Linked DNA regions of Homo sapiens. The protein of the gene in region 2 interacts with the protein of the main gene of each other region in a pairwise test. Each region holds a gene or a part of one and is shown on either strand. Other genes may lie near its edges.

Region 1 (3,754 bases), on a different chromosome or scaffold from region 2:
ATGAAGACACTGGAATCACTTGACCTTACTCCAGGATCCACGTATAGGTCTACACAATAGTTGGAGCCCCACTTTGGGAGTTGCTCAAAGTATTTATAGCATAGAGTTTAACCATGTGGACTTCAATTAGACTGCTGGGTTAGAATTCTGGATCCACCACTTACAACTTGTTATTTGGTATCTTTGTGTGTAGTTTCCTCATCTGCCGAATGGAGATAACAACTGAAACTATCTTCATATACATCAATATATGTAAAGCATTTAAAATGGTACCTGGTACAGAGTAAGTTCTTAATAAGTCTCGGTTGCTTTTGTTAGCTACTCATGTTTAGGGTACCCTAAGGTCAGATTATTCATATTCCATTTCACATATACGTATGAATTAAGTGTAGGAGAGTATACAATGATAGAAGGTATACAGTGATAGAAGGTAGACAATGATAGAAGGTTGACAATGATGAGTAAAACACAATTCTTGTTCCCAAGAAATTTATTTGCAAGAGCCTCATCCTTAATAAGGAAGCAAGAATTACTGCCCTTTGAACCAATAGGGGTTTTTTGGTTTGTTTTTATCTTTTTAGTGAAGAGGAAAAAACACAAGCTGTGGAATATGACAAACCTGGGTATGAACCCCTGTTTACTATGCATCATTGCCTGTGTGACCTTGTGCAAATCAATTAGCCTTTCTAAGCCTCAGCTTCCTTATTTATAAAATGAGAAGATGATATTAATAACTACTAATTGGGACCAGTAAGAGTACCCACTTCATATGGTAGTTGTGAAAATTAAATGAGATAAACCACAGTGCCAGGCATATAGGAAGAGTTCAAAAACTATAGCTTAAAAAAAAAACTACCCAATTTATTGTGATTCTTCTAAATGTCTAGTCCCCAAAGGAGAAAGGCCATCTTTGATTTCTAGAGTTATCTATTATACTAACCCACTATCAACCGTAGTGAGAATAAGCAGGTTCCATGGAAAAGAAGAGGCAACTTGGAGCGTGAGTGAAAGCATGCACCTCACCAAATTAGGTGGAGTAAAAAATAAACCTCACGCCCTCATGCTTATACTCAGGTCAGCACGTAGGTGGTATGTTTGGCAAACCTGGGACCAGAACAGGCTGCCCTTTGGCTCTAGAGAGCTCGCCACACCCAACCAGATACACAGACACACCTTCAGCCTCTGGCAGAAGCTTCCACTAAGTAGGTTTCATAAGGCTGGAAACCTTTTGCGGGTCCTACAGAGAGGGTCTATACTTATTTCATCTCCTTACCAGACTCTCCTTTCTCTCTTCAGGCCTAGGCATTAACACAATTTTTATCACTACATTCTGATGACTGCAGACATGAACATCACTAAGCTATTCTTTAGTGATGATCTTAAGATCTTAAGCCATGCAAGGCCATGATTACAGGTTCCTAATCTACAAAGTCAGTGGGGAAAGGATCAGTTTACCCAACATGATAAAAGATTGATTTCTTCACTAATAGTCAGAAAGGTAAATACAATCCCTAGCTAGCAGGGAGAAAGGGATATCTCTAGATATTCTTTGGATAGGTATCCCTGTAATTTACACCATAATCCTAAAGAGAGGTCTCCAGATACACTAACCAAGGGGAACTCAACTTTAGCTTTTGGGTTTCACTGAATGCCTAGGGCTTTCCAGTCTGCAGTTTTGTTTTCTCTATAAGTATAGTCTTCTTTAGGCTTACACATACAAGTAACTTTATAATGTATAAAAATAAAAACAAATGGAAAAATCACAGGTATTTAAAAATTTAAATCAGGAAATATTTTATTAATCTATTCTGTAGGGAGTGGTTTTAAACGGTCATTAGATTGAGGGTGAATAGGTTGGCCAGGCGTGGTGGCTCACACCTGTAATCCCAGCACTTTGGGAGGCTAAGGTGGGTGGATCACCTGAGGTCAGGAGTTCGAGACCAGCCTGGCAAACATGGTGAAACTCTGTCTCTACTAAAAATACAAAAATTAGCTGGGCATGGTGGCAGGTGCCTGTAATCCCAGCTACTTGGGAGGCTGAGACACGAGAATCACTTGAACCCTGGAGGCGGAGGTTGGAGTGAGCCAAGATCACATCATTGCACTCCAGCCTGGGTGACAGAGCGAGACTCCGTCTCAAGAAAAAAGAAAAAAAAAATTGAGGGTGAATAGGTCAAAGCAGCATGCCTCTAAGAGAGACAAATTGTAAAAGGCAGGGATAGTTCTCAACTAAAGACAAACGCATTTCAGCAGAGTGATACGGTTTGATGAACCAGGAGAAGGCAGTGAGGGGTGTGACCATGCTGAGGGCAGTATGAATGTCTAGTTAGTGGTTAGGACAAGGAATTAAGACACTTAAATATGCAACAAAGCATGAAGAAGCATTTGTATAGGATTCAATTATTAGGTGATTGGTTGGGCTTCACAAACATTGAAGCTTTTTCAACCAACCTGAGACTCTGATTCTGTTTGTAGATTCATTCTCAACACTGCCACTGAATTGGCCTTCCTGAAAACGCCATTTATGAAGAGACCACCAACTTCTATTCACCAAGGCACCAATACACCAAATCTGCCAAGCCTTTGAGACATAAAATTCAAACAGCAAACACCCAAGGAACTGAACAATGAACTAGCCTTTTCAAATATTTCATATATTCATTGAGTACTGGGTAATAAAATACATAAAATCTTTGGAAAAAAGTCTAGGCATTGCTTGACATTGATACTGTTATTCATTAGATACAAAATTGTCTGTGATATCCCCTTTTAGCTGATTAATGGATGTGGTCACTGTCTTAAGCTCTCTCTCTATATATATGTCTATATATATGTTCATGTATATATGTGTATATATATAGCTTTCAAAGACCAATCAGCCCTTAAACTTGGTAAAAAGGCACTCAACTTCATTTAAAAATGCATATTAAATCTACTCAGACTATCTGTCACTTAGATTGAAAAAAATCCAAGTTTGATGTATTTTGTTGTCAGCACAATGGGGAAACAGGCATTCTCTTTCATTGCTGGTGGCAAAATGGTACAACACCTATTAAGGGCAATCTGACAATATCTATAAGTACTTCAATGCATATGCCCTTAATCCACCAATTCCACTTTGTGGAACTTATTCTTGCAGATACACTTGCAAAGGAACAAAACTGCAGGTTATTCATTGCAGCATTCTTAGTAACAGCAAAAGGCTAAAAACAACTTGTTTACCAGTGCGGGACTGGTTAAATAAATTATTTAAATACTATATAGCTAAAAATGAATTTCATGAAGAACGAAGAAGCTCCCTACTGACTGAGAAATTACTTCGAGGCCAGGCGCAGTGGCTCACGCCTATAATCCCAGGACTTTGGGAAGCCAAGGTGGGCAGATCGCTTGAGCTCAGGAAGTTCAAAAGCAGCCTGGGCAACATGGAGAAACCCTATCTCTACCCAAAATACAAAAACTTAGCCAGGTGTGGTGGCTCGTGCCTGCAGTTCCAGCTACTTGAGAGGCTGGGGCAGGAGAATGGCTTGAACCCAGGAAGTGGAGGTTGCAGTGAGCCGAGATGGTGCCACTGCACTCCAGCCTGGGTGACAGAGTGAGACTCTGTCTCAAGAAAGAAAGAAAAGAAAAAACAAAAGAAACGGAAATTACTTCAAGATGTATTAAATGAAAAAGTATGCACTGTATACTCCTTTATGTATATAATAAACTCTGGAAAGATACACAGGAAAACAATAATAGTGGTTACTTTTGGGAG
Region 2 (3,754 bases):
TGGTAGGCCCCCTGAAGAGAGGGCAGGCAATTGGTACAGGCAGGGCAGGTGTGAGGGGGATGCTCGGACCCTGGCTTGCTGGAATGAAAGGAACTAGGGCCTCGCGCCTCATTGTCGGGGCCTCCATCCCCCTCACCTGTAAAATACAGAATGCCCGGCACCACCCTGAAGCTTCACAGACCCCACACATCACCCCCCCACCCCCACCCAAGAAAGGTGGGTGCTCTGTGGGTACAGCTCTCTGTGGGCTGAGCACGTCCAAGCACGTCTCAATGAATCCAAAGCACCCTCCTACGCTCCAACCGGGCATCTCGGAATCTCTCAGCCCTGCTTGCGCTCACCTAGTGAGTGCCTTTGGGCGCTGGCTCCTGCAGGCTCTGCTAGGGTGGCGTCATGGAGTCCTTCTGTAAAAGGCCCTGTAGCAGATACTTTAGGTTTTACTGGCCATGGGGTCACTGCTGCAACCACTCAACCCTGCTGCCATTTTAGAGTGAATAGAGGAGGAGGAACAGCAAGAATATCATTTACAGAGGGTAAGTACCTGAAGAGGTAGAGTTGTGTCTCCACAGAACCTTACTCACAAAACAACAAGAACAGCCAGAGAGCCACAGTGTGCAGACCTCCGTGTCAGAGTGAGATCCATCCCCAGTCCAGCTCACCTGGCCTGACACCTGCTGCCTCTCTCTGCATCTTGAATACCAGCCACCCAGGTACAAAGCTCTCAACATCCAGGCCTGGTGAGGCCCCCATCTGTGTGCTCTATTCTCAACTGAGGCCACCCTCAGGCCAGCCTTGGCATTTTGATGTATTTTTAAAGGAAGCCAAGTCCAATATCAGGACTTGGGGGGTGAGGGGTACAGATCTCCTTGCTAATGGAGAAGAGGATTGTACTGCACACCACAGGGTAACCTTGACTCTCTCCCCAGGGTCCCCCTCTGCAGACAGCCTCTCACCATCACCCTGGCCCTTCTCACCACTAGCTCTGGGAGTCGGGCCAGGCAGACCCCTGCCAATTCCCCTGTATCCCCTGGGGATCCTTCAGGAACCACCCCCCTGAGAAAATGGAAGGGCTCCCTAAATAGCTAACGTCATGTGCCACATCTTGCAATTGTGTTTCTGTGTTTGGTGCATCTGTTTAGCTGGTTATAGAATCCATCCCACCTAACGCAGGCCTGCAAAAGGGTTCATGCTCAACAGATGCCTGTTAGATGAGTAAATGAATGAGTGAATTTGGAGATGTGCAGCTTATCCATGTCAGAGTCCGAATTTGAAACCGAGGCTCTGATTCTGCATGTGTTCCCCCAGGGGGAATGGGCATAAAGAACACGCTGGCTTTCCCCATTTCAGGTGAAAACTGGGTTTCACTGCCTAGGCAGACTGTGCCCACAGCAGGATGGGAAGGAGGCCAGCAGCCTGCAGATGCCCCATACAGTTACTCCTGAGCTTCATGACAGGTTAGCCTTTTTAAGAAACACAGAGAGAAGGTCTCCCTCCCCGCCCACCCCCAAAATGATCTTCCCACCCCCAATCCAGGCCAAGCTGGTAAACCAAGTCCAGGCAGGAAGGAAGATGCTGTTGGGGTAAATAAAGCAAGGGAGCAGTGTTAGCAGGAGGGCGGCCTGGGTGGTGGGAGAGGACAGCTGGTTTAGGCCGCTGAGTGGCCAGGGCCCAGGAGGCTTCTTCCGGGCTGTCCCTTCCACCAGCATAATCCCTCGCACCCAGCCCGACCCTTTGGGGCCAGAGGTCCTACCCCAGAATCTCCACCCCCTGCAGACTCCAGCTGAGCTGAAACCTGACCCAGAGCCAAGGGCATTTCCTGTCTTTGTAGATTCTGTGGCTGCCCTCTTGGACCTCACCCCCTCCCCTCACGCACTGGACACAGGCAGCTCAAGGTCCCAGCATGGGGATTCCTAGGTGGGCCTCGTCCCCATCTGCCCCAGGTGTGGGTCAGCAGCCCAGACTTCTGCACTGAAGACCAACAAAGGGGTGCTCTGCCCTCACTTACAGCCCACCGTAGGCAGGATACTCTTGAAGTCGTTCTTCACGTACCGAAGAGCCAAGCTGGACTTACCCACGGAGCCACTTCCCAGGAGAACCAGCTTGAACACACGGGGCTGGCTGGGGGCAGCCCTGGGCTGGGGGGTCCTGTGTGCCTGTGCCATGCCCTGCAAAGAATCACAACCGTCTGAAGCAAGTGGAACATCGGAGCCACATCATCTCAGCAAGCTCAACCCCGGGGCTGCTTCTCGGTCAGGAGCAGATGGCCCAATACAGAGCTCCCAACTCAGAGGCCACCTAGGTCCACACTCCTGCTTCCCTCTGCACCCCATGCCCCATCTCCCCATCTGCAATTTTTAGGTCCATTTTTAGGTCTGTGGTAAGGAACAAAAGGAGCTTTGCTTGGAAAGCTCCGGGCACGGGTCATTGCAGACCCTGAAAAGCAATGATTACATGTGACGGTCTCAGGGCTTGTTGTCCTCCTTCCATTACTTTCAGTTTTTACAAATCTATTACTTGTCCCCAAAGTATCTAATGCAAGGAGAGGTAAAAAGCATCTGAGCATTTCTTGGGTGGTTGTTCATGGATTAAAGTTGGTGTTTCAGAAAAAATCTACCTAAAAAAAGGTTGGTGTCTCAATGATCTCAAAACATCGTAGACACATTCCCATTGTGTCTAAAGCCTCAGAACCCACAGTAATATGCCCCAGAGAAAACCAACTTCGTGATCAAAATAAACGTGGGCGACCCCTGCGTATTTTTCATCATAGAAACTTTCATGTACACACCACAATAGAGAGAACGGTCCGATGGGCCCATAGACCCACCTCCCGCTTCCCCAGTAATCAGCTCAGCCATTTGTATCACTCACACTCCCAAACCTCCCCCTGCAGGGTACTGTGTAAAGCAGATCCCAGGCATTCTATCATCTGCAAATCTCAGTAGAGATACAGGTATTTTTTTTTCTTTGCAGTTCATGTGTTGAAGAAATCAGGTTGTCCTGTAGATTTCCAGTACGGATGTTGCTGATTACACCCCTGTGTTATTGAATAGAGTCCTATGAACTCTGTATTTTTGATACCGCGGTGGTTCAGGACATAAACCTGATTAGATACAGGCTATTTTTTGGCAAGATTGCCATGAGAGTGTGCGTGCACTTCCCACAGAAGGCAAATAATGTCCAGTTGTCTTTCTGTGATGTTGGCAGTCACTGAAGACTATTACTTCGACCCACTATTTTACTAAGGGGTTGCAAAATGGTGACATTCTAATAATGTTCTAATGTTATCACTTTGTGTTTATTATCTAGGAAGAGAAGCTCCCCACAAAAAATATGAAACCCATCAGGGGCAGCTGGTCCTGGGAACAGAGTCTCTTCTCCCTTCCTCACCACAGTGGGCAAGAGGGAGGCTCCCTAAAGGGGGAAGGGGAGGAATTTTGAAAAGGAAAGAAGAAAAGCAGGAGTGGTTGGAAGCAGCCCACATGCCCTCACTGCCGCCAGTAAGGAGCCATGGCCACAGACTGGTCTGGTCTGCCCTGCAGGGATAAGAGGGGAGGGAATCAAGTTTGGAATCAATCTCAAAACAAATAGGACTGAGTCCTAGATACCAAGAAGATCGTTCTAGAGAGAAAGTGACTGAGAGTCATGGAGTCCAGAACAGGAGGGTTTAGGGCTCTCTACCCATCAGAGAAGAAGGGTTCCACATAGTAGACTCGGGTGGTTATCCCAAACATGCCTGGAACCCCATCTTAGCTGG
Region 3 (3,167 bases), about 160 Mb from region 2:
GCTCCTCGGTGTGACTTGCTCCCAAGTTCAGGGCAGGTCCATCTGATTGGCTGAGTCTGGAATATCTGCCTGTGCCTCAGCTGTGAGGGAGGCAGGGAAAGTAAGCCTTTTCAGCTTCTGTCGTGGGAGGTGGGCTCTGCCTCCTACCAAGAATCAAAGGGTGGAGGATCTTCAAACACAGGAAAAGAACCCGGATCCTGGCACCCCCAAATTTTCAGAGTCCATTTCAGAGCATAAGAAATTGAGGGTCCAAGATCATTCATGTAAGAAGTTTAGAGGGGGAAGAAAAGAATGATAAACGAAAAGAACAGCAATAGTAAAGGATCTTTTCTTTGTTTCAGTAAGATGAAGAGGCCTGAGCAGTTTCGTGGAGGGGAAGAAACAGGAAAACCTCTTCAAAAGACAAAAAGCTGGCACTGCATTCTCTCTCTGTAGCAGGACAGAACTGTCTAAAGACAAGACCCCTTTGGCCAAAATAAAGGAACCTGAAACATTACTAATGACCCTTCAAAAGCTTCAGTTGTTTGTTTCCTTTAATTAACATCTAAATAGATTATACATCTTCTATAATTATAATATGGAAATGTATATGAGCAAAATATATAAATTTTTTGGTGACTGCTTAGGGAAGAATGATGTCAGTGAAGTTCATCCAAGGTCTTAAGCAGCAGCATCTATGCAGCCAGGGCGTGGTCAGCGTTTGGGGACAGAGGTAAATATCCGCAATCCATGCATCTCTTTGATTTCTTCTTTTAGTGCCTAAGTAAGAAAACAGCATCATCAGTTTTTGTGTATTTGACGTTGATTACAGTAATTCTCTGAGAGTATTTTTATACAGCTCTGCATCTGAAGGAGACTTTGTATGTGCTTTGTTTAAGCAATTTTTCCTTTTTTTGAAAAACAATTTTTTTTAAATCAATAATATCTAACATGATTTAAAGATTCAAAGGTACAAAAAGGCATTCAGGGAAGTCTCCCTCCTATACCTGTCCATCTCCCCAGTTTCCACCCTTGTTCCCAAAAGAACTGTTGTTAGTTTCTTGTGTATCTTTTTTTTTTTTTTTTTTTAAGTCATGGTCTCGCTCTAGCGCCGAAGTTGGAGTGCAGTGGCGCGATATCGGCTTACTGCAAACTCCACCTCCTGGGCTCAAACAATCTTCCTGCTTCAGCCTCCCTAGTAGCTGGGACTACAGGCACATGCCACCATGCCTGGCTAATTTTTTTATTTTTTGTAGAGGCAGGGTCTCACTATATTGCCTAGGCTGGTCTTGAACTCCTGGACTGGAGCAATCTGCCTGTCTTGGCTTCCCAAAGTGCCGGAATTACAAGCGTGAGCCACTGCACCTGGCCAGTTTCTTGTGTATCTTTACAGGGACTTAAAAATGCATATTCACCAGGCATATTCAAGCTAATATATTTCACCCCATGACCTTTTAAAACGCAAATGGTTAAAATTTCAAACACATTACACCAAGCTTGTCCAACCCACGGCCCATGACAGCTTTGAATGTGGCCTAATATAAATTCGTAAACTTTCATAAAACATTTTGAGATTTTTTTTGAAATTTTTTTTAAAGCTCATCAGCTATCATTAGTGTTAGTATATTTTATGTGTGGCCCAAGAGAATTCTTCTTCCATTGTGGCCCAAGGAAGCCAAAGGACTGGACACCCCTGCTCTACACTTTGCTCTTCCCCCAAACATCTATCTTGGAGATCTTTCTATGTTAGGCATATATGGGTGTCCTGATTCTTTTTTGCATCAGCATAGTATTCCATTATATGAATGCATTATAACTTTTCAACCTGTCCCCTAGCGAACTTTTAGGCTGTTTCCTGTGTTTTGTTATTTCGAGCATCAAGCATTCTTTAAAATGAGCAGTTCTTTAAAATCATACCAATTAGCACAAATTCCCCAATGGTCAGAGCAGGAAATAAAGTTTCAAAGGAATTATGGGACTTGTTTTAAGGCTACAAATGGTGTCAGAGCCCAAATCTGAAGGAACTACCAGAGTCAAATAGATATTTGGCCCCTGTAGTGCTGGGAGAAAGTGAGGTTACAGAATCAGAGTGGGGCTTGGACCGCTCAAGTTTATAATCAGTACAGAGGAAGAAATAAGGTCCTTTTATACTAGGCCAAAATCTGATAATCATACTAGAGTGGACATTTTTCTTTTCTAGTCTCTTTAGTGATCTCCTTCTCTTGGGGAATAATTCCTTTTCCACTCTATTGTATAATTCTGGTGGAACCACCAATTGGTCTGATATTGAGGTCATTATGTGCCACTGGCCCAGCCTATGATTGGACCGAGGTGGCACATGACCCAAATTGGGCCACTTAGAATCTCCCTTGGGATTTCTGAGAGTGGAGCCTTGTTTCTTGGGCCAACATGCTATGAAATTAATTGGAGGTGGCCATGGACTGTGTTTCCCACCAAGGAGAGAAAGCCCATCTTTAGCAGGAGAAAAGGAGACCAACACAGGGAAAGAAGCTGAAAGCTCAGAGAGAGAGAGGAATCTAGATATGCCAGAAACCAGATAATTTTGTTACATGGGCCAATTAATTCCCTTTGTTTGCTTATGCTAATTTTAATTTGGTCTCTGTCTCTTACAATATAAAGAATCCTAATATATGTGGTCAGGTTTATAGATCCTTAGACACAATCTAGTCCCATCCCCTTATTTAATTAAAAAAAAAAAATAGAGTCTACTCCTTGTCCAAAGTCAGCAAACAAGCGAGTAATGGAATCAGGATATGAACCCAGGTATCCTGAGGTCCTGGCCATACCTGGTTTCCATCATGTTCCTGACTTGCCCTGATCCGGGAGCTCCTGTTGTGTTGGGGGACAATGAGCTGCCCCACTTGGCCTACACTGCACACCCTCCAGCTCCACAATCAAGTGCAGGGCCCTCAACTCTGCGGACAGGCAGAAATGTCCCTGGAAAAAGCCTCATATAATCACTGGGCGAAGGTCCCTGGGCCACTTGCTCTCTGCAGGCGTGGAATGCTCCCTAGAGACTGTGTCTGTGCCTGGACCACAACCAGCCTCTCCTCCTTACATCCACCTTGGCTGGGTGAGGGCCCAGTCACACCTTCATGTGACTGACCCTGGACAGAGGAACCTTCTGGGCTTCACCCACTCAGGCCCTGCGCACTCCCCCTCCCTGA

What was found.
Region 1: the proteins of RAB17 (region 2) and CSTPP1 interact in binary tests that used the Homo sapiens proteins (3 or more experiments, as listed by UniProt).
Region 3: the proteins of RAB17 (region 2) and BOLA3 interact in binary tests that used the Homo sapiens proteins (3 or more experiments, as listed by UniProt).

What each region holds. Positions count from the first base shown.
Region 1 is NC_000011.10:46,939,742-46,943,495, reverse strand, and holds part of CSTPP1 (centriolar satellite-associated tubulin polyglutamylase complex regulator 1), read right to left. Parts: intron 1-3,754. UniProt on the Homo sapiens protein: Regulator of the tubulin polyglutamylase complex (TPGC) that controls cytoskeletal organization, nuclear shape, and cilium disassembly by balancing microtubule and actin assembly.
Region 2 is NC_000002.12:237,583,993-237,587,746, forward strand, and holds part of RAB17 (ras-related protein Rab-17), read right to left. Parts: intron 2,166-3,754; 5' UTR 2,163-2,165; coding exon 2,006-2,162; intron 1-2,005. UniProt on the Homo sapiens protein: The small GTPases Rab are key regulators of intracellular membrane trafficking, from the formation of transport vesicles to their fusion with membranes.
Region 3 is NC_000002.12:74,134,900-74,138,066, forward strand, and holds the end of BOLA3 (bolA-like protein 3), read right to left. Parts: intron 760-3,167; coding exon 694-759; coding exon of another isoform or gene 623-693; 3' UTR 501-622; downstream 1-500. UniProt on the Homo sapiens protein: Acts as a mitochondrial iron-sulfur (Fe-S) cluster assembly factor that facilitates (Fe-S) cluster insertion into a subset of mitochondrial proteins. Probably acts together with NFU1.